Linked DNA regions of Homo sapiens: all the other regions are reported to be linked to region 3. Evidence: microRNA targets listed by miRTarBase, many of them from high-throughput screens and not tested one by one. Region 3 holds a microRNA gene; each other region holds the end of a gene's coding sequence.

Evidence for each region. The annotated mature microRNA hsa-miR-212-5p reads ACCUUGGCUCUAGACUGCUUACU and lies in region 3 at 5,554-5,576, opposite strand. An mRNA with a match to its seed (bases 2 to 7 or 8) in the 3' UTR can be bound and repressed. Matches are read on the target gene's strand: a 7mer-m8 pairs with bases 2 to 8, a 7mer-A1 pairs with bases 2 to 7 and ends in A, and an 8mer does both.
Region 1: miRTarBase lists GPRC5B as a target of hsa-miR-212-5p. Seed matches in the 3' UTR shown: 7mer-m8 at 974-980 and 7mer-m8 at 3,656-3,662.
Region 2: miRTarBase lists MANEAL as a target of hsa-miR-212-5p. Seed matches in the 3' UTR shown: 7mer-A1 at 3,376-3,382.

Annotation. Positions count from the first base shown.
Region 1 is chr16:19,851,738-19,861,341 of GRCh38, reverse strand. GPRC5B (G protein-coupled receptor class C group 5 member B) reads left to right here. Exons shown (of 4, transcript NM_016235.3): 4 at 798-4,651. The coding sequence ends at 842. IQCK (IQ motif containing K) reads right to left here. Exons shown (of 9, transcript NM_153208.3): 9 at 2,875-4,855. The coding sequence ends at 4,794. Among named protein-coding and RNA genes, the nearest start is that of GPRC5B, 28 kb to the left of the region's middle. RefSeq lists enhancers at 102-683, 1,957-3,156, 6,307-7,226, 7,227-8,145.
Region 2 is chr1:37,797,441-37,807,284 of GRCh38, forward strand. It overlaps MANEAL (mannosidase endo-alpha like), which reads left to right. Exons shown (of 4, transcript NM_001113482.2): 4 at 2,127-3,693. The coding sequence ends at 2,763. It overlaps YRDC (yrdC N6-threonylcarbamoyltransferase domain containing), which reads right to left. Exons shown (of 5, transcript NM_024640.4): 2 at 9,661-9,775; 3 at 9,417-9,536; 4 at 6,862-7,004; 5 at 5,505-6,557. The coding sequence ends at 6,485. Among named protein-coding and RNA genes, the nearest start is that of C1orf122, 5.4 kb to the right of the region's middle.
Region 3 is chr17:2,044,775-2,054,618 of GRCh38, forward strand. MIR212 (microRNA 212) reads right to left here and starts at 5,606; the gene lies at 5,497-5,606. It overlaps MIR132 (microRNA 132), which reads right to left and starts at 5,234; the gene lies at 5,134-5,234. It overlaps LOC124903896 (a long non-coding RNA gene), which reads right to left and starts at 5,175. Exons shown (of 2, transcript XR_007065576.1): 1 at 4,387-5,175; 2 at 3,933-3,984. RefSeq lists silencers at 4,930-5,729, 5,740-5,889, 8,893-9,362 and an enhancer at 6,435-7,330.

The DNA.
Region 1 (9,604 bases), not on the chromosome of region 3:
CTATCTGATGCCAAACAGACCTTCAGCAGAATTGTCATTGTTTACGTTTGCCTCCTTGGAATGACACCATTTTGTTTCTCCAGCAATCCAAAGATGCACTCTCATCTCCACATTTAATTTCCAAACATAGCTACATGCTTCTTTCAGAAACAAGGTCTGAGCCAGTTTACATGTGTAAATTGGGTTTCCATTCTTTATATCATGTTCCAACTCCATAACTCAACCTGAGCATTCTTCTTTTTTTTTTTTTTTTTATGTAAATCAGGGATGGTCTTTGATCTCTAGAGGGAATTTAGGTTTTCCTGGCCTTTTGAATGGTATGCTAGGCATTGGTTTGCATTGGTTTGGAACAGGCTCAAAGACAGAATCACAGATTTGCATTCTTAAAACCCCCTGCCAACGACTGGGCTGTTTTATTGTCCCGAGCCAAGAAAAGCCTGATTCACAAGCATTCGGCCTGTGTGTTATAATAAATATGCTTAGAAAAGCCCCCATCCGTCACTCTTAAGCCCTCCTGGTTCCTTCAAGGCCAGTGTGTGAAAAAATAGTCAAGACTGAAAGTGAATGAGTTGAACTTACATTCCTTACGGGTGGATGGTTATAGAAAAGGGAGCTGGGCTTCCCAAGAACCACAGCAGCATGACTCACAGTCATTGCTGCCTCTCCTGGGAATTATTCGACCCATCTAGGTAAAAGCAAGGTAACTTATTTTTGCCGCGTTGTTTACGCATCGGTTTCTAGTGTTGACTTTGCAAAGCACAGAGTTCTCAGTGTGTTATCCTTATGTGTTATTCCAGATCCCAACTGCTCCGCCAAGTCACACAGGAAGACACCTTTGGTGAAAGACTTTAAGTTCCAGAGAATCAGAATTTCTCTTACCGATTTGCCTCCCTGGCTGTGTCTTTCTTGAGGGAGAAATCGGTAACAGTTGCCGAACCAGGCCGCCTCACAGCCAGGAAATTTGGAAATCCTAGCCAAGGGGATTTCGTGTAAATGTGAACACTGACGAACTGAAAAGCTAACACCGACTGCCCGCCCCTCCCCTGCCACACACACAGACACGTAATACCAGACCAACCTCAATCCCCGCAAACTAAAGCAAAGCTAATTGCAAATAGTATTAGGCTCACTGGAAAATGTGGCTGGGAAGACTGTTTCATCCTCTGGGGGTAGAACAGAACCAAATTCACAGCTGGTGGGCCAGACTGGTGTTGGTTGGAGGTGGGGGGCTCCCACTCTTATCACCTCTCCCCAGCAAGTGCTGGACCCCAGGTAGCCTCTTGGAGATGACCGTTGCGTTGAGGACAAATGGGGACTTTGCCACCGGCTTGCCTGGTGGTTTGCACATTTCAGGGGGGTCAGGAGAGTTAAGGAGGTTGTGGGTGGGATTCCAAGGTGAGGCCCAACTGAATCGTGGGGTGAGCTTTATAGCCAGTAGAGGTGGAGGGACCCTGGCATGTGCCAAAGAAGAGGCCCTCTGGGTGATGAAGTGACCATCACATTTGGAAAGTGATCAACCACTGTTCCTTCTATGGGGCTCTTGCTCTAGTGTCTATGGTGAGAACACAGGCCCCGCCCCTTCCCTTGTAGAGCCATAGAAATATTCTGGCTTGGGGCAGCAGTCCCTTCTTCCCTTGATCATCTCGCCCTGTTCCTACACTTACGGGTGTATCTCCAAATCCTCTCCCAATTTTATTCCCTTATTCATTTCAAGAGCTCCAATGGGGTCTCCAGCTGAAAGCCCCTCCGGGAGGCAGGTTGGAAGGCAGGCACCACGGCAGGTTTTCCGCGATGATGTCACCTAGCAGGGCTTCAGGGGTTCCCACTAGGATGCAGAGATGACCTCTCGCTGCCTCACAAGCAGTGACACCTCGGGTCCTTTCCGTTGCTATGGTGAAAATTCCTGGATGGAATGGATCACATGAGGGTTTCTTGTTGCTTTTGGAGGGTGTGGGGGATATTTTGTTTTGGTTTTTCTGCAGGTTCCATGAAAACAGCCCTTTTCCAAGCCCATTGTTTCTGTCATGGTTTCCATCTGTCCTGAGCAAGTCATTCCTTTGTTATTTAGCATTTCGAACATCTCGGCCATTCAAAGCCCCCATGTTCTCTGCACTGTTTGGCCAGCATAACCTCTAGCATCGATTCAAAGCAGAGTTTTAACCTGACGGCATGGAATGTATAAATGAGGGTGGGTCCTTCTGCAGATACTCTAATCACTACATTGCTTTTTCTATAAAACTACCCATAAGCCTTTAACCTTTAAAGAAAAATGAAAAAGGTTAGTGTTTGGGGGCCGGGGGAGGACTGACCGCTTCATAAGCCAGTACGTCTGAGCTGAGTATGTTTCAATAAACCTTTTGATATTTCTCAAGGCCCTAGTCTCTGCTGTCTCCCCTCCCCACCCCATCCTTGCAAAGCACTGGGGAAAGTAAGGCCAATCTGGCCCTCCCTGTGTGACCCGCCTTCGAGTTTTCCTTAACAGTTAGTACATTTCCTTGTGTTACCACGCATGGGGAAGAAAACGCATGGCCCCAGAATGCCACCCCCACCTGACCTCCCCGGAAGCACCCCGCCTCTGCCCAGAGCATGTGCTTGCTTCTAGAGAATCCCGTTCCAGTCATTGCGTGGACAGAAAACGTAAGAGTCCTGGGGAGGGGTGGGAGGGAATGAAGCTAGGACCTGGGGTGGGGGTGGGGGCGGTTGCATGCGGACCCGGTATTCTGAAAAGAAAGAAATCTTCAAACACCTCGGTCCTGTCCGGTGAAAAAACGACAGCATTACACATTCTCGTGCCAGGAAATGGTTACTCACCCCCGCTCTCTGGAGTCCTTTGGAGCTTTCTGATACCATTCACACGATGGAGCAATTCACACGTTCGTTTTCTAAGTTCTTTATTGTCCAAGCATATAAGGTGAGCACAGCACAAATGGCTGCCATGGAAAGTCGTGCTTCCCCAGCATAAGAACAGAGCCATCTTTGAGCCATGGGAAGCCTCATTTAATGAGACCTTTTTCCCCCCTTTTAAATCTGATATGTTATCGCACTTAGGGTTTTGTTTTATTTTGGCTTTTAAGGTTGAGAGTGGGCTGAACGCCTTCATAATGGGGGCGGAGGCGGGAGTGAGAGGAGAAGGGAGAGAGCTGTTCTTTTTCTAATGACTACACCTGAAAAGTATCAAGAGACATCTTTGCCAAGAGACTGTAGCAGCCAGCTGCCCCCCGTGGAGCAAGGTTTAAAGACAAAATTAAATGGCACCTCTGTTTAAGATCTGCGTGTGTAAACAAGACTCGTTTGGGGAAAACGACCCGGGAGGAGAGCATCTGTGATCAAAATCTCTCATTGTAAGCACAAATTGTTCCGTGTCTGGTTATTAAAATCGCTTTGGGTCTATAACAGCCACTCTTGTCCCCCCTTTTAATAGAAAATTGTCATTCTAGCCTGGATTTCTCCCCACTGGAGGTGGAGGGTGGGAAGAGAAGGGAGTCAGCTCTGACAGCTTACAAACTGGGAAGTTCTGTGCATCTCCAGGGATTCCAGAGTTGAAGATCTGGTTGTTGGAAGCTGGGCGCCCAGTGCTTTTTTTTTTTTTTTTTTTTAGCCCAGATGCCGTCAGGACCCACTGAACAAGGGTGAACTCGGGTGGTGGTCTCGGTTGGCCAAGGCTGAGTTGAACGCCTCAGGCCAAACCCCAAGTTGAAAGGGAGCATTGTGGCTTTTATAATCCAATGATGCAATGATGATACCAGCTTACAGGAGTTCTCAGCAGGTGCTTTTTATTAACTGATGAAGAGCTAAGGCTCACTTTTGATAGATAATATATATTTATTAAATGCATTAATGTGTGTTTTATAATGTACCTTTATCTTCCCCCGGCTGACTGTTGCATACTTATAAAAAAGAAGTTAAAGAAATTTCAAGACAATCAATATGTACCATAAACGACTATATAAATATTACAAATTTAAAAGGCTGTAAACCATGGGCAGATAGGTTTTATTTTCAAAATGCTGTTCTTAACACAAAAATAAAGGCTTTACTATTTACTTAAGACGTGTGGTAGCTTGTCAAAACAACCCAGTGCAACTAACTACTAGGCTTTCGGATCTGCCTTGAGGGTCGGTCTGTGGCATTTTAAATGGGAGAATCTTGGTTAACAGCAAACCACAGAACATATTAAGGTAATAAGTTTACCCATAAAAGCAGGAACTTTCTATATAATACTTTGGGACTTAGACAACAAAAATCCTTTGTTACATCTGTCTGGGTTTAAGTGTCTCATCTTGTTGGGTTTGCAGTAAAAGTTAAGGAGTGGTCTCCTTTGGAAATGATCATTAAGTATAAGGTCTTTTTTATAAAGAGAGTAGTCAGTCACTAGGTAAACTTAAAACCAAATTCAGAGGTTGGGGACTTAAATTAGAATATGGATCTTTGCAAAGGCGGCCACAAGTGGGAAAACTGGTAATAAGAGCACTTCTGTATTCCTTGGGACTAGAGTTCATTGTACATTTTAACAGCAGCTGGTGTAGAAGAATACTCCTGAGGCACTGAAGAAGTAATCTGGATGAATGAATAAAATGTGGGGATAATGCAGAAAGTGAAGACTGGTCCTTTCTTTTCTAAACTATTTGCATTAAAGCTTGTTTGCAATGAATCCTATCTTGTACAGAAAAGATTCCATTTGCACATGTTCCAAGTCTTGTTAAAGAAATCACAAGAGAGAGAGCATCATTTGGACATTTTCCTTGCACAAGGTAACTTGTGCTCGAATGGGCAAAGATACGTCTTAGCTATGGTTAAGATGATGGAATTTTCATCTTGGCTGCAGGTACTGCATCGTCCTCCATTTTGCATTTCACTGCAAAGAAAAGAAAGGGAAAGTCAGGATCAATTTACATACGTAGACAGGCTTGTCATTGGGAAACCGGAAACTCTGATGTGTGGACAAGGTCAGTTGCACCAAAACCCACTGTGCGCCTGCTATTCATGGTTCCGGCCCCATGGATCCACGGGGAAGAACACAGGCCCATTGTGCTCTAAGGACAGCACCTGAAAGTTCAAAACCACTTCCCGGACTGTTCATGGCCATTCTTAATTCAGTTCAGAAAGAGGTCAGAAGTGTGCTTTGCCGGTCAGGGTACTGAAGGAAGGCAATTTTACTAAAGACGATGACAGATTCCAGGCTCTCCGCTCAACCCCATCTGTCACCACACACCCTGTTCTCCAGCCACCCAAAATGGAAAACTCAGGGTATCACTGGGGGCAATGCAAAGGTCTGAAGAAAATCTTTTCTCTTATGTCATGGTCTGGACCAAGAACCTGATCTCGGTGATTTCCTGTGTCTGCCAAACAGGAAAGTTAGCTCCATACAGGGTATGGCTCTGTGTGTAAGGGGAATTAATCCCAACAGATAAAAGCCTCTCCCCAATTAAATATGGAAACCCAGTCCCTTGGTGGGTGCAGTAGGGATCCTTTTGGAAAGACCCTCTCTTTTAATATATCTTTGTCTGGAGTGTCCAAGTGCTGCTTGCCCATATGTGAATGTCTTGAAAGGTGGTTTGAGCCAGGCCACAGGTTCTGATGATTTGTGGAGAGCATTGTTCTGGTAAAAAGGGTGTTTGAGCTTGTTACTATGTAGGGCTGAGGTTTCAAGTGAACCTGCCCTCGTCCTGACCTCCCAGCAACTAAGGGCATGCACCAGCCAGATGCGGCAAAGAGGTGGGTATGTACACCATCCCATGAAATGCACTTTTTTGTTTTTTTGGGGACAGAGTCTCTCTTGTCCAGGCTGGAGTGCAGTGGCAAGATCTCGGCACACTGCAACCTCCGCCTCGCAGGTTCAAGCGATTCTCCTGCCTCAGCATCCCAAGTAGCTACAGGCGTGCACCACCACGCCCTGCTACTTTTTGTATTTTTAGTAGAGATGGGTTTCCCAATGTTGCCCAGGCTGGTCTCGAACTCCCAGCCTCAAGTGATCCACCCGCCTCAGCCTCCCAAAGTGCTGGGGTTACAGGTGTGAGCCACTGCGCCTGGCCCTGTGGTTATTTTCTGATGGAGGTGGGATGAGGGCCTTCAGCAACACAGACCAGCCCTGCAGTCTTCAAACTGAGGGCAAGGGTTCTTGGTCATGGTTCATTCAAAGGAAATCAATTTCCAGATCATCAGCTTCCCACCCTCCTGTCATTCCTGGCCCAGTGTGTAAAGACTCCCCAGGTGCCAAACAAGAAGGCAGTTCAAAATGAGGGCCCTCAGAGTCTCCTTATTTTCTATGTTTGACAACTATCAAATTGTATCATGTATTTATTTGGTTTTGCGTACTACTAATCATTGTATTAGCAACACAAATCAGAAAAAAATATTTTTAATACTTGGAGCCTGTGGTCACAGGACATTTTAAAACATTTTTTCAAGGTATATACCTTTTTTATTCCATTTATATGGAAGCTCTATGGGCAACCACAGTGAAAACCCTATGTGCTTCTAGACCCTACTAACGATGACATTGACTCTTCATAGTCAAGGATGCGCCACACCTCCCTAAAGACTGTCCCACTAGCTGTGATTAACAGCTCCCCAGGGATTGGGGGAGAGTCCCGAGTTGTATCATTTGCCATTTCCATAGCCTATTGGAAGCCAGCAGCCTGACAACGTAACAGAGTTGGGAAGAGGTGCGCACAGTCAGATGGAGCGGGGCTGCCCTGGATCCCCCCAGGGAGGTACACAGGTCAACTAGTGCAGCCAGCATCAGGCATAACTTCAGACCTGCAGGCTGGCTCTCTAGGGACAAATTGGGGACATCTGCAATAGGGGGAAATTGTTAGAAATGCAAATTCAGGGCCCTTTTCCAGGCAGACAGAACCAGACACTGGGGGTGGAGCCCATCCATCTGCATTTTAACAAGGCCTCCAGGTGATTCTGATGGATCAGGCTGGGTCTCTAGGGACAAGTTGGGGACATTTGCAATAGGGGGAAATTGTTAGAAATGCAAATTCAGGGCCCTTTTCCAGGCAGAGAGAACCAGACACTGGGGGTGGAGCCCACCCATCTACAGTTTAACAAGGCCTCCAGGTGATTCTGATGGATGCTAGTTAAAGTTTGAGAACCACTGATTACTGGTTTTCTACCCTGGCTGCTTGTAAGAATCACATGGTCAGCTTCTGAAATTTATTGGTGCCTGGGTTTCACTCCAGCAATTCTGATGTAACTACCCTGGGGCCTGGGCATCAGTAGCTAGGTAAAGCTCCTGTGTGTTGCTAAGGTTCAGCCAGGGTTGAGACACAGATGGGGCTTAGAATCCCTTTAAAGAAACGTGACTGTAGGACCCTGAAGAGTCTAGAATTCCCCTCAACTTATTAACATCATGCTGGCTGCCTGTGAGTCTCACAGTTTAAGCTGCTAGAGAGAGAGTTGGCAGACAGGCTGGGCACAGTGGCTCACGCCTATAATCCCAGCACTCTGGGAGGCCGAGGCACGTGGGTCACTTGAGGTCAGGGGTTCGAGACCAGCCTGGCCAACATGGTGAAACCCTGTCTACTAAAATTACAAAAATTAGCTGGGCGTGGTGGCAGGCGCCTGTTAATCCCAGCTACTTGGGAGCCTGAGGCAGGAGAATCGCTTGAAGGGAGGCAGAGGGTGCAGTGAGCCAAGATCGTGTTACTGCACTCCAGCCTGGGTGGCAGAGCAAGACTGTCTCAAAAAAAGAAAAAGAGAGAGAGAGATAGCTGGCAGACAGACAGATGCTGGAGGCAATTAATAGCTGGAGGGAAGGACTGGCTTCTGGGAGAATTCCCCAGCCCTTGGGTTTTCTTTAGTTTTCTTCAACTGCCTGAAGGAAGAATTCACCTGCAAGCTGTTGTCCTGGTATTTTACCCAATTCCTGTCCATACCTTGACAACCTTGTTGCCTACTCCCTACGTGTTGACCTTGCTTGGGAAAAAGCCCCTTAGTATCTCTTTAGATCATCACTCAGAAATCTTGACAGAGGAGAGCAGAAAGGAATGAGCTAGGGACCTTGTTCATGGGGGAGGACCGAGAGGTGTTATCTCGAGTTGACGGGCTGGAAATCAAGGTGTGACGTGGAGCCTCCCAGTGGAATTACCTGGGGATTTCTGAACACCCTACACAATTAGGTCACCATCTCTGGAGGCACAACTACACTGGAAAACTGCTTGGCGTTACCAAATGGAACTGAGTCTGACAGTGAATACAAATGATTCCACTCCCGTATCCCACTGCAGAAACCCTTCCATACGTGTACTGGGAGGATGCTCGTGATAGCAAAACCTGGACACAACCCAAATGTCCATCAGCAGTTGACTGGATAAACCAATTGTGGTCTACTTGACCAGTGATTATACAACACTGAACATGAGTGAGCCGAAGCCACACGCATCAACTTGGATTAGCTCAAAAATGTTGAAGGAGGCCGCGTGCGGTGGCTCACGCCTGTAATCCCAGCACATTGGGAGGCTGAGGCGGGCAGATCACGAGATCAGGAGATCAAGACCATCCTGGCTAACACGGTGAAACCCCGTCTCTACTAAAAACACAAAAAATTAGCCGGGCATGGTGGCGGGCACCTGTAGTCCCAGCTACTCGGGAGGCTGAGGCAGGAGAATGGCGTGAACCCAGGAGGCGGAGCTTGCAGTAAGCCAAGATCGCGTCACTGCACTCCAGCCTGGGCGACAGGGCGAGACTCCATCTCAAAAAAAAAAAAAAAAAAAAAGTTGAAGGAAAGATGAGAGGCACGGAATAATACATATAGTGTGATTCTATTTATAGCAAATCTAAATGCTGAGAGATGCATACAAACGTGAAAAGAGCTCCAAAGAAAAGCAAGAGAACAGCTATCATGATAGTCAGAGAAGTGGCTTCATGGGGGAAGAGCTTTAAAACTGTTGACAGTGTTCTGTTTGTTTGTTTGTTTGTTTGTTTGTTAAATGTTGTAGAGAGGTCTCGCTTTGTTGCCCAGGCTGGAGTGCAGTGGTGCGATCATAGCTCCCTGCAGCCTCTGGAGGCTTGTGGAGGCTCAAGCGATCCTCCACAAATGTTTTTATTTATTGTTATATGTGTTTTATAGCCACTGTTGTACGCATATTTCACCCCCCAAAAGGTAAAAAGAAATAGGTATGTTCGTGTATTGCTTGAAATTACAAAGCCAACCAATAAAGGCATGGAAAAGAATGATTTAGCTGTTTTGAGGAGGGGAGGGATGGAATCTAAGCTAACCCTCACCTATCATGGCAGGAAATCAGTAGATCCTATTGAAAATCTTATTACCATAGAGACCTGTTCCAGATACAGAAGTAACACCCCGAGGAGCAGCTGAAGTTCAAAGTCATTGCCTCTGGGGATGCACTACTTTGCTAAAAATTAAGCAAGAGATAAAATCTCGACTTGGTGGTCTTCCTCCTCCTGGTCTTAGCAGAACACAGCCTTGCACAGGTAGGTACTTGATCAGCGGAGGGAGGAAAAGGGGAGGGAAGCAGGGGTGAGAGGCAGGAGAGAAGAAGTAAGCCAGGATGCTGTAGAATGCAGCTTCCACCTTAGCTCGGAGACATCATCGTGGTTGGCTTCCAACACCAACAGACAGATGCCTCGGCACCCC
Region 2 (9,844 bases), not on the chromosome of region 3:
GGCTCATGCCTGTAATGCCAGTGCTTTTTTTTTTTTTTTTCTTTTTTTGAGACAGAGTCTCACTCTGTTGCCCAGGCTGGTGTGCAGTGGCACAATCTTGGCTCACTGCAACCTCTGCCTCCTGGGTTCAAGCGATTCTCCTGCCTCAGCCTCCTGAGTAGCTGGGATTACAGGTGCCCACCACCACACCCAGCTAACTTTTGTATTTTTGTATCTTTAGCTGGGCGTGGTGATGCACAGCTATGGTCCCAGCTACTTGGGGGGCTAAGGTGAGTGGATCACTTGAGCTCAGAAGTTTGAGGTTACAGTGAACTATGATGGCACCACTGTACTCCAGCCTGGGATTTCACCATGTTGGCCAGGCTGGTCTTGAACTCCTGACTTCAGATGCTCTGCCCACTTCGACCTCCCAAAGTGTTGGGATTACAGGTGTGAACCACTGCACCCGGCCTCCCAGGGCTTTGGGAGGCAGAGGTGGGAGGATTGATTGCTTGAGGCCAGGAGTTTGAGATCAGCCTGGGCAACATAGCAAGACCCCATCTCTACTGAAAAAAAAAATTAGCTGGGCATAGCAGTGCATGCCTGTAGTAGTCCTAGCTACTTGGAAGGCAGAGGTGGGAGGATCACTTGAGCCCAGGAGTTTGAGGTTACAGTTAGCCACAATTACACCACTGCATTCCAGCTGAGAACAGAGCAAGATTCTGTCTCTTAAAAAAACAAACAAAAAAAAAGAGAGTATTGAGTGCCTACATGTGTCCAGGCACTGACTTAAGCCCAGTTGTACAGTAATGGGTAGGACTAGCGAAATTTCTGATTTCATAATGTTTACTTTCTAGTGTATGTTGCAGGTACTGTGGAGCAGACAGTAATTAAATGGGAAAAATCAAACAGTGATCTGTACAGGATTTTGTGCTAGAGTGTGCCCACGATGCTACTTAAGAATGGATAGTCAGGTCAGGTGAGTCTGAGGAGACAACAGGTGAGCTAACACCTGAATGAGCAGTCAGGGCTGGGTGTGGTGGCTCACACCTGTAATCCCAGCACTTTGGGAGGCTGAGGTGGGAGGATCACTTGAGGCCAGGAGTTTGAGACCAGCTTGGGCAACATGGGGAGACTCTATCTCTACAAATTTTTTTTTAAACATTAGCTGGGCATGGTGATGCATGCCTATTGTCCCAGCTATTTGGGGGGCTGAGGTGAGTGGATCACTTGAGCCCAGGAGTTTGAGGTTGCAGTGAGTTACGATGGCACCACTGTACTCCAGCCTGGGCGATACAGTGAGACTTAAGAATAAAAAAAAGAAAAAAGAAAAAAAAGCCCAGGCCCAGTGGCTCACACCTGTAATCCCAGCACTTTGAGAGGCTGAGGTGGGTGGATTGACTGAGGTCAGGAGTTCAAGACCAGCCTGGCCAACATGGTGAAACCCCATCTCTACTAAAAATACAAAAATTAGGCAGGTATGGTAGCGGGTGCCTGTAATTCCAGCTACTTGAGAGGCTGAGGCAGGTGAATCACTTGAACCCCAGGAGGTAGAGGTTGCAGTGAGCTGAGATCGCCCACCGCACTCCAGCTCTGAGCAACAGAGCAAGACCCTATCTCAGAAAAAAGTAGTAATAATAAGAAGAAAAAAGAAAAGAAAAAGGGTCAGCTCTGCAAAGATCCGGAGGCAGGGAGAAAATTCCAAGCAGAGGGCTGGCAGATGCAAGTCCCATAAGATGGAACAAGCTTGCATGACACATGAGAGCCGGATAGAAAGGCCAGATGGGGAGTAATAGCTGGGAAAAGAGCAGGAATGGAGTAGGCAGGGCCAGATCAAGTAGGTGGGAATAATGAATGGATTATATGGAGGCAGGATGGGAGCCTGGAGACCAGTTAGCTGGCTGTTGTTGCAATCCAGATGGAAGACGGTGGTGGCTTGGCTAAGGGTAGGGAAGTGAGGCTTAGGAATGACAACTGGAGAGAGGAAGGAGGGAACCAGGTTCTTGCTTAGAGGCATGATGACTCCAACTGTGGAGACTGACTGGCTCCAGAACTGGGCTGTGTTGCATCCGTATCTCATCCACGGGAGGTCCTACAGCTGTGCTGGTCTCTCCCATCCAGCTGAGGCTCTTCTTTCTCCTTCTCAGGTATGGCTCCCATGGTGCATTTTACCGCTATAAGAACAGCATGGGCAAGAGCCTCCCACTCTTTTATATCTACGACTCATACCTGACGTCCCCTGAGGCCTGGGCCCACCTCCTGACACCAAACGGGCCCCATTCGATCCGCAACACGCCCTACGATGGGGTCTTCATAGCGCTGCTGGTGGAGGAGGGCCACACCCACGATATCCTGGCCGCCGGATTTGACGGCATGTACACCTACTTTGCCTCCAATGGTTTCTCCTTTGGTTCTTCCCATCAGAACTGGAAAGCTGTGAAGAACTTTTGTGATGCCAACAACCTCATGTTCATCCCCAGTGTGGGGCCTGGCTACATAGACACCAGCATTCGGCCCTGGAACAACCACAATACGCGCAACAGGGTCAATGGCAAGTACTATGAGACGGCCCTGCAGGCGGCCCTGACAGTGAGGCCCGAGATCGTTTCCATTACCTCCTTCAATGAGTGGCACGAGGGCACCCAGATTGAGAAGGCCATTCCCAAGAAGACACCCACCCGCCTGTATTTGGACTACCTGCCTCACCAGCCCAGCCTGTACCTGGAGCTGACACGCCGCTGGGCGGAGCACTTCATCAAAGAGAAGGAGCAGTGGCTCATGTGAGGGGCCTGTAAATGGGCGTGAGGTGCTGATGTCCTTGCCTTGCTGGAAGATGTCACCATGTGGGGTTCAGCTGAGGTTGTAGCCACTCACTCGTTCCCAGGTCAGAGGTCAGCAGATGGGTGTTTCTGGGTGGGCCGTCAGGCATGGGCCTGTGCAACACAGAGCCCGTTCCTCAGGCGAGTGGTGCTGAGGTGCTCTGTGGTGATGGGAACGGCAGAGGCTGGCAGGTGACTGAACTTAGCCCAGGGCAGCTCCACATCCTGGGAACACTTTCATGTAACCCCTTCTAGTTTTGAACTCTGCAGCAGGCTGGTGCTGTGTAGTGGCCACCCAGTCACCACCCTTGGAAGGGTGTCAGGGTCTGGGCTCGCATGCACCCTGCTCCCTTCTGCCAGCCTGCATCCTCTCCTCAGGCCTCCTTCCCACATCATCTGTCTTCTCTAAGTTAGGGAACCATATTTGAGACTTTCAAAAAGGGAACTTCTAGGTTTAAGCTCCTCCCAGTAGATTCCTGAACCCAATTATCAGGAAATCATCCTGAGCACTCACAGGTTCATTTAACACTCACTCATCAAGCACCTTCCTATGTGCTAGGTGCTGGGGAAAACTTGACCAAGGAAGAGTTCCTGTCCTGAAGCTTCCAGGACCCAGCTTTCCTTTTCTGGTGTGGCCTTGTAGCTAGTGCCTGGGCACAGGTGTTTTTCTTTTTGCAGTTTTACCTAGTGCTGGGAGTTCAGTTCTTTTTCCTCTAGAAAAATACCTCTGTGCTCCAGAGCCTAATTTTTCCCAGATGCATATTTAGCTCTAGGGAGAGGACTAGGAGGAAATCCCCCTCCCTTTAGCTGCCTGAACTGACTGAGGCCCACTCACTAGAGCCATGTTCAGTGCTACTGTGATTAGTAGTAATTAAATATGAACTGGTATTCTCAAGTAAGCATTCCTTTTGCTCTCTTTAAGACCTCACAGATTCTGACCTTAGATTCTGTGACAAACTGATACAGGAGCTGGGCTGGCTATGGCTTTACCACAACAAGTAGGTTTGCTTAAGAAATTACTAAACAATGGCTGGGCGTGGTGGCTCACTCCTGTAATCCCAGCACTTTGGGAGGCCGAGATGGGCGGATCACGAGGTCAGGAGATCGAGACCATCCTGGCTAACAGGGTGAAACCACGTCTCTACTAAAAATACAAAAAAATTAGCCAGGCGTAGTGGTGGGCGCCTGTAGTCCCAGCTACTTGGGAGGCTGAGGCAGGAGAATGGCGTGAACCCGGGAGGCGGAGCTTGCAGTGAGCCGAGATCACGCCACTGCACTCCAGCCTGGGCGACAGAGCGAGACTCCGTCTCAAAAAAAAAAAAGTTACTAAACAAGGCTGGGCGTGGTGGCTCACACCTGTAATCCCAGCACTTTGGGAGGCCAAGGAAGGTGGATCACCTGAGGTCAGGAGTTCGAGACCAGCCTGGCCAACATGGTGAAACCCCATCCCTACTAAAAATACAAAAATTAGCTGGGCGTGGGTGCCTGTAATCCCAGCTACTTCTGAGGCTGAGGCAGGAGAACCGCTTGAACCTGGGAGGCGGAGGTTGCAGTGAGCCAATGTGGCACCACTGGACTCCAGCCTGGGCAAGAGCAAGACTGTCTCAAAACAAAAACAACAAACAAACAAACAAAAAGAAAACACAAAAAACATTACTAAACAAGATTTCTAGAGGGAATTAACAAACCAGTGCTTATTTACCAATAAACTAATACGCTAATTGCAGGAACCCTGATTAAAGCAGGCCCCTGTTAACACAAGATTCTTAGGATATACTTGGAAACAGGTGCATTGGAAACCACTGTACTGAGAAGTTTATGGGCTCAAGACTGAATTGGAAGCTAGGCGTGGTCGCTCATGCCTGTAATCCCAGCACTCTGGGAGGCTGAGGTGGAAGGATGAGTTCAGGAGTTCGAGACCAGCCTGGGCAACACAGAGAGACGTGTCTTTAAAAAAGTAAAAAATGGGCTGAGTGCCTTGGCTCATGCCTGTAATCCCAGCACTTTGGGAAGCCAAGGCGGGTGGATCACTTCAGGCCAGGAGTTCAAGAACAGCCTGACCAACATGGCAAAACTCCATCTCTACTAAAAATACCAAAAAAATTAGCAGGGTGTGGTGGTGCACACCTGTAGTCCCAGCTACTCAGGAGGCTGATGTGTGAGAATCACTTGAACCTGGGAGGCGGAGTTTGCAGCGAGCCAAGATCGTGCCACTGCACTCCAGTGTGGGCAACAGAGATTCTGTCTCAAAAAAAAAAAAAAAAGACTGAATCAGAATTTTGGGAACTAGGGTACAAGAGGGAAGGGGAGGAAGGAGGAAATAGACCCCAGTGGTCACCTCAAGGACACCCAGCCCCAGTTAGGTAACTGATATTAAGCCCCACCAGAGAGATGAGCAGGCCTGGCCACCTGGCTTTGGGGCTTAGCTGGGGAAACCAAGGCAGGCAGGGACAGCTGAAAGGGTTGGATGTTGACCTGTAGTAATTTACAGAAGGTAGCAACACTGGCTTCATTTAACACACACACAATCTGAAAAATACTAAACATGGGAAGGCCAGGGGGCAGAGGCAGCCATTCTCACACACTGCTAACAGCAGTGTAACTTGACTCAGTTCTTTTGAAGGCTAATCCATACTGAGAGCCATAAATACTTCCTACACTTTGACCTACTCTCCTAAGGAAATAATTCAAAAGAAGAAAAACAAACCATTTACAAATATGTTTAATAGCAGCATTTCTTTAAAGAAAAACAAAGTTCAAATGCCCAATAATAATTATGTTTAACACTTGGTACACATATAAATAGACAAAAGGCTGCGGAGAACACTGGATTTAAATAAAGGTGTTATGGGTATAATTAACTATAATTTATTTTATGAATAAATAAGAAAAAAGTCCCTGGCTATAAAGGATAGTGGAGGTTTATTTCCCAATATTCTTCCATTTGGACTGAACCCCTGCCAACTAAGCAGACATCCCACTATTACACCAAAAAGACTGCTCTCCCTGCGAGCAATTACAATACATGACACCACTAGGCCCAATGGCTCAGAGGGAAGAGTGGCCTGTGGCTCTTCAATCTTTATCCAAACCTGGTTCTAGCTTCAGGAGCCTTTGGTCACCTGAGACTTTTTATTTATTAATTTTTATGAGACGGAGTATTGCTATGTTGCCCAGGCTGATTCTGAACTCCTGGGCTCAAGCAGTTCTCCCGCCTGGGCCTCCCAGAATGTTGGGATTACAGGCATGAGCCACCACACGCAGCCACCTGAGACTTTTTAAACAGCACCAGCACTTCTGGCTGGTTTGAACCTTAAATGCCACCACCCACCAGAGAGGAGGCTCTCACTAGATTCTAAATCTGTTATTTAATTACTTTTCAATTGAAAAACAAAACAGACAGAAGAAACTTATTAGAATAAGGCCACCTAGGAATGTTCTTAACTTTTCCATTCAGCTTTTGGCTGATATATGAAAATACAAATAAATACATCCTTTCCCCAGGTGCAAGGCTAAACCAGCAGCTCCAAGGGCTTGGTCTACAGTGCTCAGAAAGACACACTGCCTTAAAAGTCAGGCTAGTGCCCTAGCTCCGGTGGCCTCTGCAAATGAGGCCTTGACAGTCGTCAGTGGACAGACACATAGTATCCAGCACCAGGTCTTGGGCCTTCCTGCTTCCCAGAGTTTCACAGGTAGGACGCATGTGAGGGGAGCAGTCCGTACTTCTGTTGGAGGATGGCTGTAGTACTTTCCAGGGCACTGAGGAGGAAACAGGACAGTTACCAGTCTGACTTCTCAGAAGTCCCGAGCCCACCAGAGGCTGGTGAGCAGGGACATCGAAACTGGCTAGCCTTGTTAAGCCCTGTTCATCAACCCTTGATGAAACCTTTTGAATCCTAAGAAAGCCAGGAAACTTAGTCCCACTGCAACTACCACTTCTCCAAACCTGGCCCACACTCCTTCAGGGCAACATAGGAGGCACCATCTTTATCTTGTCAAAGCTTTTTTGCATCTCTCCAACCTCCCTCAAATTATTTCCCCACACCACAGGAAAGAGACTTACCAGCCTGGACGAATGATGCCAAACTTTCCGGGCACAGACAAATCAACCACAGTTGAGCCAAGGCGACACTCGGGGCTCTGGCCATCCCCAATTTGTCCCCCATCAATAACCAAGGACAACTGAGGCCAGAGATCCTGGAACTCCTGAGAAGAGGGAGAAGGAAGAGCATGGACACTATCCCTGGTGTATCCAATAATGTCAAACTGCACGCAGTCATCAAAGGCCATATAGTCTTAAAACAGAAGGCACTTTCCTCTAAGCAGAGAAAGGAGCTTCATTTAGTTAAGGTCAACTGTGCCAAAGACACTGTATTCTATGAGGTTTGGAGGCCTCCTGGGTTAGCACTCCAAGTAACACCTATCTAGGGTTTAAAGAAAATCTTGCTATGTCAAAAGGAAATTTCACACATTGCTTCAGTTAGGGAAATATAAGTACAATGAATGGAGTTCTGGGCAGAGATACGGGCTATAACTCTAGACTTTCCATCGTATCTCCGTGTGACTGCATGCAAGTTACTCTATCCAGGCCTACAAGACAAGTGGGCTGGACTAGATGATCCTATGTCCTCATTTCATTTGTTCTAATCTATGTAGCCAAGACAGGACTAGGATGATCTTTTCTTTGACCTGGCTTGCCGCAAAGATAAGAGAACAGGGTCAAGAGTCAAAAACTAGGTAAAAAGACCAGGCATGGTGGCTCACGCCTGTAATCTCAGCACTTTGGGAGGCTGGATCTCTTGAGGCCAGGAGTTTGAGACTAGCCTGGTCAACATAGTGAAACCCCATCTCTACTAAAAATACAAAAATTAGCCGGGCATGGTGGCACACGCCTGTAATCCCAGCTACTCACTCGGGAGGCTGAGGCAGGAGAACTGTTTGAACCCGGGAGATGGAGGTTGCAGTGAGCTGAGATGGTGCCACTGCACTCCAGCCTGGGCAAGAGAGTGAGACTGTCTCAAACAAAACAAAACAAAAAAAAACTAGGTAAAAATCTGGTCACTTAATGGCTGCGTAACCTGGAACAAGTGATTCCAGCTCCTTCTAGCTCTAGAACTATGCTCCTGGATCTCACTGCGACTCTGATCAGGGTAGGAAGAGTAGAACATGGTAGATTCTGCATGCCACCAGCACTCAGTCTTTGGGCTATGAGAAGGATACTCCCCCTAGAGCAGTGGACTGAATTGTTAACTGAGCTAGAGCTTCCCCAACCCCCCAAGGAAGACACTGCAGTGGCAGTTAGGCCTGGAAATCTGGGACAGGAAATCATAAATACCAGTTACTGTGTTGGACAGGTCAAATGATTGCTGACAAGGTAAAAACCTCCCCTCCCTGTGCCACATCCCGATTCTTGCTCCTGGGGTACAGCCACCAGGACCAAGTCAAACCTGCACTCTGAGAATGGGAAGGGATGCTGAACTCTCACTTTCTAAGAACCCTGAGCCCCACTCTAGGTCTGGGAATGGAAAACCCATCGAATGGAGTTCTGAGCAGGGATACGGGCTCTAACTCTGGACTTTCCATCGTATCTCTATGTGACTGCACGCAAGTTACTCTATCCAGGCTTATTAGCTGGATGTAATAAGCCCAAGGAAGGCCCAAGGCCTGATGCTGGATACTATGTGTGATACTATGTGTCTGGCCGAGTCTGGGGACACAATGTAGCTTATTACTACGTTTTACATCTTAGTAATAAGAAAAAAAACGAAATTTCTATGTGTCCTCCTTTGTTCTAATCTATGTAGCCAAGAAAGGATTAGGATGATCCTTTCTTTGATCTGGCTTGTGGCAGAGATAAGAGAACAGGGGCGAGAATCAAAAACTGGTTAAAAATCTGAGTCAGTCACTTAATGGCTGTGTGACCTGGAACAAGTGATTTAACTTTCTGGAGGCTAAACTTCATCTTTTTTTTTTTTTTTAAGAGACAGAGTCTCGCTCTAGAGCCCTGCCTGGAGTACAGTGGCACAATCTGAGCTCACTGTAACCTCTGCCTCCCAGGTTCAAGTGATTCTCCTGCCTCAGCCTCCCAAGTAGCTGGGATTACAGGCATGCGCCACCATGTCTGGCTAATCTTTGTATTTTTTATTAGAGATGGAGTTTTGCCATGTTAGCCAGGCTGGTCTCAAACTCCTGACCTCACATGATCCACCTGCTTGGGCCTCCCAAAGTGCTGGGGTCACAGGCATGAGCCACTGCCCTTGGCCTTCTTCATCTTTCTTTACAGCACTGTCGTGAAGATTTATAGCCTAACTGTGTTCTCCAGAAACTGTTATCTCCAGAAAAACAGGAAGACATTGTTCTTATAATCTTTCCTATTATTATAAAGACTGAAGAAAAGACCAATTCTCCCCCTGGCTTTTCAGACTTTGAGATAAAATCTTTCAAATTTTTTTAATTTATATTGCCCCCCACCACCTCCCTGCCAGCTGGGCAACCTTCCCACTGTTGGCCCAAGAACTCTCATGCCTGGCCATCCCAGTGTACTATCAATGCCACTGATTCACAGAAAACAGTATGTGCGCTGGTGACATTTCCAGGGGAAGGACTGGGTAAACTCACCTCGACATTCAGAGAACTGGCCTGGGAGCTGAGGTTGGCACTAGTGAGAGCAAGCGGACCCTCAAACATCTGAGCCAAGTCTTGCATAAAAGCATGATCAGGAATCCGAATGCCTACAAGCTGTAAGGCAAGGGGAAAGGGATCATGAGAAAGGTTGGAAGGGATAAGAGGGTAAGTCTTATCTGGATCCTAGTGAAAGCCAAGTGGCCTGGAGTCTGGGGACACAAGAGAAAACTTGACTCACAGGCGTAAAAGGGTTTAGGTCCTTGTTGAGCTCCTCCGAGCGTTCCATCACCAGGGTCACTGGTCCTGGCAGTAGGTCTTTCAGGAGCCCCTCAGGTACTCTCACACGGCAGTATCTGGGAAACACAGAAGAATAAATCCATTCAAAATTGAAGGGCCACTGGTGGTCCTTTCCTAGACTCTAG
Region 3 (9,844 bases):
CCAACTCCTGTTTAGCCCTCAGACATAGTTGCCAGGGAGCTAAGCAACTGAGCAGGAATTATGGTCAGGGACACAGCACAAATACTCCAGCCCATTTTTCTGACAACCAGACTAATATCCCTTACATTACCGAAAGTTCTGGGTTCCTCACTACAGAGATTAGCTGTCCAAAATTAAAAAAAACAAAACAAAACAGAATTATCCGCCCAGAGACCTAGTTACTGGGTGTGGAAAGTGTGTGTGGGGAGGGGTGGGAGGTGGTTCTCCCTTGCTTCAGTTGGCTTCTGCCTTGTTTTAAGGAATCTTCTCCTTTAGCAAAAGGAGGAGACTTTGGAATGGATTGATTACACAGACTGTGGTATCTGACCCATTGAATTTTAGAAAAAATTCTGATTTAAAGTTTCAGAAATTGCACAGAAAATTTCAGATTTCTGGCTTCTCTGGAAATGATAGATTTGCAGTTCAGGGCTCCCATACCCTCATGGTAATCATAGGCTGCCCCCTTTAGCACGGTCCCAAGAGGTGAAAACGACTTGTACACCCCAGCTGCTTGGGATTATTGAGGACGAAAGTAGAGAGAAGGGGAGAAATATTGGGGAGTGAATTTTGAGCCAAGGCTTAAAATTAAAAGTGGGGGAGGTAGAGCCCAGCAGTAGTAGGTGGAGGAGAAGGGCTCCTGGCCGGGGGTGAGGATTCCTCCTGAGAACCATAGTGTCCAAGCTAGAGGGAAACATGGGGTCCACTAGTTCTCGACAAGTGGAACAGGTCACTTCCCATCATGCCGTCCAGGAGCAAGAGAGACTCTTAGGGGGTTGTGCCCCTCCCCACCCCCAATACGCAGATTCTGTGTACCATTTACATCCAGAACATTGGTTAAAACCTGAATTCTGGCCCTGCGTGGTGGCTCATGCCTGTAATCCCAGCACTTTGGGAGGCGGAGGCGGGCAGATCACCTGAGGTTGGGAATTTGAGGCCAGCCAGACCAACAGAGAGAAACTCTGTCTCTACTAAAAATACAAAATTAGCCAACCATGGTGGCGCATGCCTGTAATCCCAGCTACTTGGAAGGCTGAAGCAGGAGAATTGCTTGAACCTGGGAGGCAAAGGTTGCGGTAAGCCGAGATCACGCTATTGCACTCCAACCTGGGCAACGAGAGCGAAACTGTCTCAAAAAAAAAAAAAAAAAAAAGTAGCTGGGCGTGGTGGCATGCACCTGTAATCCTAGCTACTTGGTAGGCTGAGGCAGGAGAATTGCTTGAACCCAGGAGGCGGAGGTTGCAGTGAGCCGAAATTGTGCCACTGCACTCCAGCCTGGGTGACAGAGTGAGACTCCATCTCAAAAAACCAACTTGAATTCTGGGGCCAACTCCAGATGTACTGAGTCAGAATCACTGGGACCCAGGAATCTGCATTTTGGCAAATTGCCCCCATCATTCCCAAGCAGGGATTTGAAAAGCCACTGCCTTAGGGGTTGAATGAAAGCCTCGGGTGAGGGTGTGTTATCTGAAAAACCCCTAGTGTGACTCTCTTGCAACCCACCAGGGAGGGGAGCAAGCTCCCCAGAACAATCACTGCTTAAACATTTTCAATTTATAGCAAAGGAAAATTAGGTCTGAAGGATAGAAATAGGAATAGCATTTATTTATTTACTTACTTATTTGAGACGGAGTCTCGCTCTGTCACCCAGGCTGGAGTGCAGTGGTACAGTCTCCGCTCTCTGCGACCTCCGCCTCCTGAGTTCGAGCGATCCGCCTGCCTCAGCCTCCAGAGTAGCTGGGATTACAGGTGTGCATCACCACTCCCAGCTAATTTTTGCATTTTCAGTAGAGACAGGGTTTCGCCATGTTGGCCAGGCTGGTCTTGAACTCCTGATCTCAAGTGATTCGCCCACCTCAGCCTCCCAAAGTGTTGGGATTACAGGTGTGAGCCACTGCACCCGGCCAGAAGAGCATTTATTGAGTAATAACTGTATACCAGACATTGTAATAAGCAAGAGCTTTAATGCGGCCTAATTTAGGGCCAGGTGCGATTGCTCATGCCTATAATCCCAGCACTTTGGGAGGCTAAGGCATGAGGATCAATTGAGCCCAGGAGTTCAGAACCAGCCTGGGAAACATAGTGAGACCCCCTCTCTACAAATAATTTAAAAGTTAGCTGGGTGTGGTGGCATGCACCTGTGGTCCCAGCTACTCGGGAGGCTCAGGTGGGAGGATCACTTGAGCCCAGGAGTTTTGAGGCTGCAGTAAGCTGTGATTGTGCCACTGTATTCCAGCCTGGGAGACAGAGCTAGACCCTGTCTCCAAAAAAAAAGAAAAAAAAACAAACTACAAAAATTGGCTGGGGGTGGTGGCACACACCTGTAGTCCTAACTACTCAGGAGGCTGAGACAGGAGAATTGCTTGAACCTGGGAGGCGGACGTTGCAGTGAGCCGAGATCATGCTACTGCACTTCAGCCTGGGCAACAGAGCAAGACTCCATCTCAGAAGAAAAAAACAAATAAAATTATATATATATAACACATATATATTTTATATATATTAGGCAATAAATATATATAGCTTAAACCTTACAACTTCATGTTTAATCTCACAACTTCATGAGGTAGGTACCATTATTATTATTATTATTTGAGACGGAGTGTCACTCAGCCACCCAGGCTGGAGTTCAGTGGCACGATCACGGCTCACTGCACCTCCGTCTCCTGGGTTCAAGTGATTCTAGTGCCTCAGCCTCCCAAGCAGCTGGAATTACTGGCAAGCACCACCATGGCTGGCTAATTTTTTGTGTTATTAGTAGAGACGGAGTCTGACCATATTGGCCAGGCTGGATTATTATTAAGACAGGGTCTACCTCTGTCACCAGGTGCAGGATCATGGCTCACTGCAGCCTCGACCTCTTCGGCTCAAGTGACCCTCCCGCTTCAGCCTCCTGAGTAGCTTAGCTGAGACTACAGGTGCCACCTATCACACTGGCTTTTTTTTTTTTAAGACATGGGGTCTCACTATGTTGCCCAGGCTGGTCTCGAATTTCTGGGCTCAAGCAGTCCTCCAGCCTCTGCCCCGCCCCGCAAAATGGTGTGATTACAGGCATGAGCCATGTCTCCCAGCCCTAAATAATGATTTTTTTTTTTTGAGACAGGGTCTCACTCTGTCATCCAGGCTGGAGTACAGTGGTGCAATCACAGCTCACTGCAGCCTCAACCTCCCAGCCTCAAGCAATCCTCCCACCTCAACTTCCCAAGTAGCTGGGACTACAGGTGTGCACAACTAATTTTCTTTCTTTTCTTTCCTTTCTTCTTTCCTTTCTTTCTTTTTTGTAGAGATGGGAGTCGCATTGTATTGCCCAGGCTGGTCTCGAACTCCTGGGCTCAAGAGATCCTCCCACCTATGCCTCCCAAAGTGCTGGGATTACAGGCGTGAGCCACTGTGCCCTGCCCTAAATGATTTCTAAGATGCTAAACAACCCTGACGTACGGTCAATCCTCTGGTTCTTTCCCCTCTGACCACATTCTGACCTCTTCTCAGAATATCCCAACCATTTCTGTTTTCCACCTCTGATTCCACCTTGGATTCCTAGAGCTCTTAGGAGAGAGAACCCCCTTAGCAAGGAACCTCTCAACAGCCCCAGGCCCAGAGTGAACCCGGGAGGCGGAGGTTGCAGTGAGCCGAGATAGTGCCACTGCACTCCAGCCTGGGCGACAGAGCGAGACTGTCTCAGAAGAAAAAAAATAAAAGTATATGTATGTATAACATATATATAATATAGATTATATATATATTAGACAATAAATATATATAGCCTAAAGCTCAAGGTGTACCCCCCACATCCCGTTCATTCTGCCTAAGTGCACAGAGCTGGGGTCCCCTCCCAACACCACCCCTTCACAAACATGTAGTAGCCTAACAGAATACTTAAGATCAAAATAACATTCTGCTGTTTTTGGATTTTTACTTACATGATCCTATTTAATCCTCACAGTGCACCTGCCGAGGAGAAGAGATTATTATCCCGTTTTACAGAAAGCTCAGAAACAGAATATGGCCCCTTAACCACCAGTTGCTGATAATGCCAGGTTGGACCTCTGGCTTCCCAGAGCACTACACCCAGCAGTCCACTGCAGTCCACCCACTGACATCCCCTGGAACCCAGAAGCAAGTGCGTTTTAATCTGCAAGACCTCGGGGCCCTGGGGAGGTGGGATGGCTAGCATGTGGGTGTTGATTAACTGGGAAACCGGCACGAGTGTCTTAGAAGTACTTCACAAAGGAGCCGGGTGGGGAGTGAAGGAGGGGGTGGGGCGTGAGACGTTAAGAAAAATTGGATTAACGTGTCGTGGGCTGGGTTGCATTAACCATTCCCAACACTATCTCTGGGGAAGTCTCACACCTGATATTCAATAGACATCCCCTGTAGTGGGTGATGTTGGCAGAGGCAGGCGACATATACAATAATATTTTTAGAGATCCTTGTTCACACTTCATCCGCACCAGAGGACTTCAGCCCCTGTGGTATTCACTCCTCTTTAGGGCTAATTTGAGAAACTGTCTCAGATTGGAATCCAGCACCTAGAGATAGGCTGAGGTGAGCAGGCTGATCTGTTCAGACGCTTCGCGGACCAGGTTAACTTTACAAGCTCATTGGCTTCCAGAGGGTTGGGGACCCTTCTTATCCTCCTAGCTCAGAGGGAAAGATTCAAGAGTTTACTCTTCGCCCAATGCCCACTTCAGCTAGGGGTTCCTGGAAGAACGGGGCTGTGGAGTATCTCAGAAAACTTTCCTCCCTCTACTGTCTTCAGGCCCCAGGAGACAAACCTCCTTCCAAGCCTCCTGGTCCCAGTGGCTTCCCTCTCACCGAAATCGAAAGAACCCGAGTCCCAGCCCGACCCCTTCTCTCGCCGAGCCCTGGCTGGGATACCTTGGCCGGGAGGACAGGACGGCCTCAGGCTGGCCGCCAGACGCACTCCGCAGGACGCGCGCGCTCGAGCCTCGGTGGACTCAGCCGCCGGCCCCGGGAGGCCGCCTCCCTGCGCAGCACCTCCTGCCACCCGCGCGGGCACGTGGGATCTTGACTCGCCGCCCCCGCCTCCTTCTGCTCCGCGTCCCCAGCCCGCGGCTCGGGGCGCGGCGTGGCGCGGCGCGTGGGCGTGCTGCGGGGCGACCATGGCTGTAGACTGTTACCTCCAGTTCCCACAGTAACAATCGAAAGCCACGGTTGCCCTGGAGACGCGGGGGCGGGGCGCGCGGACGGCGCCGGCGCGGGGCGGGCTGACGTCAGGGCCGCGGGGGGGCGGGCGGGGCGGCGGGGGCTGAGGAGCGCGCGTGGGCCACCGCCCCTCGCAGCCCCTAGGGACCCGGACGGGGCGGCCCGATGGCGGCGCCTGCGTTGATCAGCACCGCGGACAGCGGCGGCGCAGGCAGCGGGCCGGGGGCGGGGCCCTGAGGGACGGGGACTGGGGGTCCCCGGGCGCGGCGGCGGCGGCCGGGGCCGCGGTCCTGGGGCGGGGCCAGGCGTCGGTGGCCGTGACTGGAGACTGTTACTGAGGGCGGCCCGGGCAGTAAGCAGTCTAGAGCCAAGGTGCCGGCGCGCTGTCCGGGCGGGGTGCCCCGGTCGCCCCGGCTGCCCCGGCTGGGGGCTCTGCTGCTCCGCCTCCCCTGCGTCTCCCGCCCTGCCCCGCCCGGCGCTCGCGACCAGGCACGCGGCCCCTGACGTCAGAGGGCCGTGACGTCAAAGATGTCCCAGAGGGGGCACTTCCGGCGGGGGCGTGGGGGCGGGGCGGGACCTGGGAGGCCCCGCCCCCCCGGTCCTGAGAGGACAGCTCCGCTCGCAGAGGCGGGAAGCCGTGGGCGCCGCGGGACCCGCTGGACGGGACCTGCCGGGAAGGGGCGCCCGACGCCATGCGGGGCGGGGGTCCCAGGAGGGCCGGGGAAGCGGGGGTGGGCGTCCGTCTCTCGCCTGCACCCCCGCTCAGCCGGCCCGGGCAGCGAGGCTGAGTCACCGCGCCGCAGGGAGGGAGAGGAGGGGGCGCGTCTCCTGGGGCGCCAGCACCTTCGCCTCACTTTCCTGGGAGAATGGCGCAGGAGCCCCAAGAAAGCCGGGGGGGGGTCTCCGAGGTCGGTCCTCCACTCGATGCTCCTCCGAAGTAGCTGCGTGTCCATCGGGCGCCGGCAGGTGCTGCGCGGGCTCGTGTCGTCTCTGGCCCCGGCTCCGCAGCCGCGAGGGGACCCCGGTGCCCCCCGTCCGCCCCCATCCCCACCCCGGAGGGGCCGCCCCACCCGCCGCCTGCCCGTCCCCTCCTCGTCCTCCCGTCCGTGTCCGCACATCTGTCCCTCCGCGGCTGGTCCGTCCCGCTTACCTGGCGGGCCGCGTCGCCACTGCCCGGTCGCCTCCCGCAGCCTGGCCGGCGCGGCGGCTTTTATAGGCGCGCGTAGTACTCGTGCGGCGGCTCATTCATGCGGCCGCGGCTCCTACACACTGACGCGCTGCCGACGTCAGCGGGGAATTTAGGAAATGGGAAAAGGGGCTATTTATAGTGGCGAGGCGGGGGGTGGGGACCGAGGCGACCGGGAGGGGAGGAGGGGGCGCGGAAGCGGCGGCGGGGTAGGGGGAGCCGCGCCCCTGCCCAGCCGACAAGGGGTTAACTTTCCGGAACCGCGGGCCTGGGGCCGGGGAGGCGGCGCGGAGGGGCGCGGCGGGCCCTTCGAGCTTATTCACGCTCTCCTTCCGGAGCCCCGCGGCTCCTGGGGGTCTTCACGTGGCAGCCCCTTCCCCCTCCTCAGTTCCTGGACCTGACGTTTCTGCCGTCACACCCCGCAAGGCCACTGCGGTGTCGCCACCCTCTCGTCCTGCAGGGTGGGCAGGAGAGGAAGCTGGACTCCCGTGGGGGCCTGGGGCGCAGCGAGGGCTGTGGCGTCGGGGGCCGGGAGAAGAAGAGTAGGGGAGCCCAAAGTAGCCCAGGAGTCTTTAGCGGAGGAACCTGGGCCTGGGAGGGAAGGCCCAGCGGGGATTCAGGTACCACCCAGGAGCTGGAGACCCGAGGGACGGCAGAGAAGTTGGGGAAGGTGGGCCAACCTCCCCAGAAATGATGAGCAACGGGATCCTCTATGAGGGAGCTGGGGGAACGCGCCAGAGGTAGGGGTGAGAGGAATGGGCAGCCTCAGCAAGGGAGAGAGGAAAGGCTGTCAGTGCCACGCTCCAGAGCCTGGCATCCAGGACCCACCTTCGGACCATTTGTGGCACGATGGACGCTCCCAGAGCTCACGTTAGGGTAATAGAGAGTGAAGGAGACCAGCAGCTTGGCCAAGAGGGGCCCCCAGGGGATGAGGAGGACGGTTTCCTGGAGAAGTTAATGTTCCCGGAGACCAGAATTGGCAGGGAGAGCCCATGACTTGTGGGGCAGTTCCCCTGGTTGGGAGCGGGGAAATGCATGGTCCTGGCCCAGCCTGGCTCCATCGAGATGGAGGAAGGGTCTAAATGAGAGGAGTGTGTTCAGACGAGGAGCTGGACCAGGATGGGGAGGGCTGTGCAAGGCATGGCCGGAAGAGCGGGGCAGGGAGAGAAAGGTCGAAGAGTGAAGTGCACAGGAGGGCAAGGCGGTCCTCACCCTGCCTGGGCTGGGGCAGGGCTGTGAGACCCTCCCTTACAGAAGCAATGAGGGCTTGAGGAGGGGGTTAGGGGCCTGGGCTGGGGCAGGGCTGTGAGACCCTCCCTTACAGAAGCAATGAGGGCTTGAGGAGGGGGTTAGGGGCCTGGGCTGGGGCAGGGCTGTGAGACCCTCCCTTACAGAAGCAATGAGGGCTTGAGGATGGGGTTAGGGGCCTGGGCTGGGGCAGGGCTGTGAGACCCTCCCTTACAGAAGCAATGAGGGCTTGAGGAGGGGGTTAGGGGCCTGGGCTGGGGCAGGGCTGTGAGACCCTCCCTTACAGAAGCAATGAGGGCTTGAGGAGGGGGTTAGGGGCCTGGGCTGGGGCAGGGCTGTGAGACCCTCCCTTACAGAAGCAATGAGGGCTTGAGGAGGGGGTTAGGGGCCTGGGCTGGGGCAGGGCTGTGAGACCCTCCCTTACAGAAGCAATGAGGGCTTGAGGATGGGGTTAGGGGCCTGGGCTGGGGCAGGGCTGTGAGACCCTCCCTTACAGAAGCAATGAGGGCTTGAGGATGGGGTTAGGGGCCTGGGCTGGGGCAGGGCTGTGAGACCCTCCCTTACAGAAGCAATGAGGGCTTGAGGATGGGGTTAGGGGCCTGGGCTGGGGCAGGGCTGTGAGACCCTCCCTTACAGAAGCAATGAGGGCTTGAGGATGGGGTTAGGGGCAGTAAGTTAACTTGGGGAGCGGATGTGGGGGAACGCTGAAGAATAAAGACTGTGGGCACAGCAGACCCCTGGGGCAGGTTAGCAATGCACAGACTCCACTGCACAAGATACATGGGGCGGAGGGGCTCTTTGGAAGTCGGGGGTGGGGGATCTGACTCTATCAAAAAGAGAAAAGATAAAAGAGATGGGGTCAGAGAGGCCCTGCATAGTCTGGATTTGGCCTACTAGAGCTCCAGTTTTCTTGCCGCTAGCCTTTGTTCCAGGGATTCTGTTATTCACAAATGCCTTCCTGCTCGGTAGAAGAACTCCTATTCATCCGTCAAAGCCCAGCTCTAGGAGCACTTATGAGGAGCCTCTCCACCTCCCCTCAACACTCCGTAACTTCCACCTCAGGCCGCAGCACGTCCCTCGGGCGAGATGTCGGGGTCCGCCTTCCCTAGAGACCGGCAGCTCCGGAGGCCTCCGTTTTCCTCTTTGGGACCTCACTGCTTCTAAAGTGAGGATGCTATGGGGAGACATGGGAGAGGGAGTGGGTAAGATGGATCCAGAACATGGGGCGGACTCAGGCAGCGGCGGGAATCAGGCGGACTCGTTTGGACCGAAGCCTCCGCCAGGCACCGAAGCCGTGAAGTCGCCTGCGCAGCAAAGGGAGCCTCCGGGGGGCGCCCGAGACCTTGGTGTCGCTCGGGGGCCGCTGGTAGCCGCGCCCGCTGCCCCTCGCCCGGTGACTCAGCCGGTACCTCTGGCGGGGCCATGGGGGCCAGAGGACAGCGCGGGGGGCGGCGAGCGCGGTTGCTAAGCTCTCCAAGGCCTCGGAGGGACAGGATCTGGGCGCACCTCACCGGTTGCCATGGTAACGCAGCGCCCCAGCCCCTCGCGCTCCGCGGTGGAGGGAGGCGCAGCCAATCGGAAGCGGCGGAGTTCTCGGGGACCCCCCCCCCCCCCGCTCCACGCCGTGTGTGGGCGGGGGTCAGGAGGTGCGGGGCGGAGGCGGAGCGTGGGCCGCGGAGATCCGGCGTTCGCAGGAGGCTTGGTGCGCGGCGGGGCTGCACGGGGCCACTTCCGGAGTAGTACTGCGAGCAGCGGCGCGACAGTGCGGGGTCCCCTTTCTCCCAGAAGAGACGTCACCCACACAAACCTGACCTTCACGTGGGGCGCGGGACCTTGCGGGGTCCCAGCCGCAGGCGCCCCTGTTGTTTCCTTCGGGCGGGTGGGTTGGAGAAGAAGTCCACGCGGGATTCTTCAAAACGGCGTACAGGGGGATTCTAGGGCCCCATGGTTACTTCTTTGGACCCCCCGGAGGCGCTGTCCAGCCACTTCCAGTCGCCCTGATGACTCGTCGTGGGTTCCTTTAGGAGACCCGAAAGTTCAGGGCGGGCTGTGTGGGTAACACCTCTGCCCAGGTTCCCGGAGGGCCCTACGTGGCTGCCCCTGGAGTATCCCAGAGCGCTAGGGCTGCGGGAAGGGGCGGGTGTGCTTCTGGAAACATGAGCGCCTGTTAGTATCAGTGCCTGGATAGGGCTGGGGACAAATCAGTTT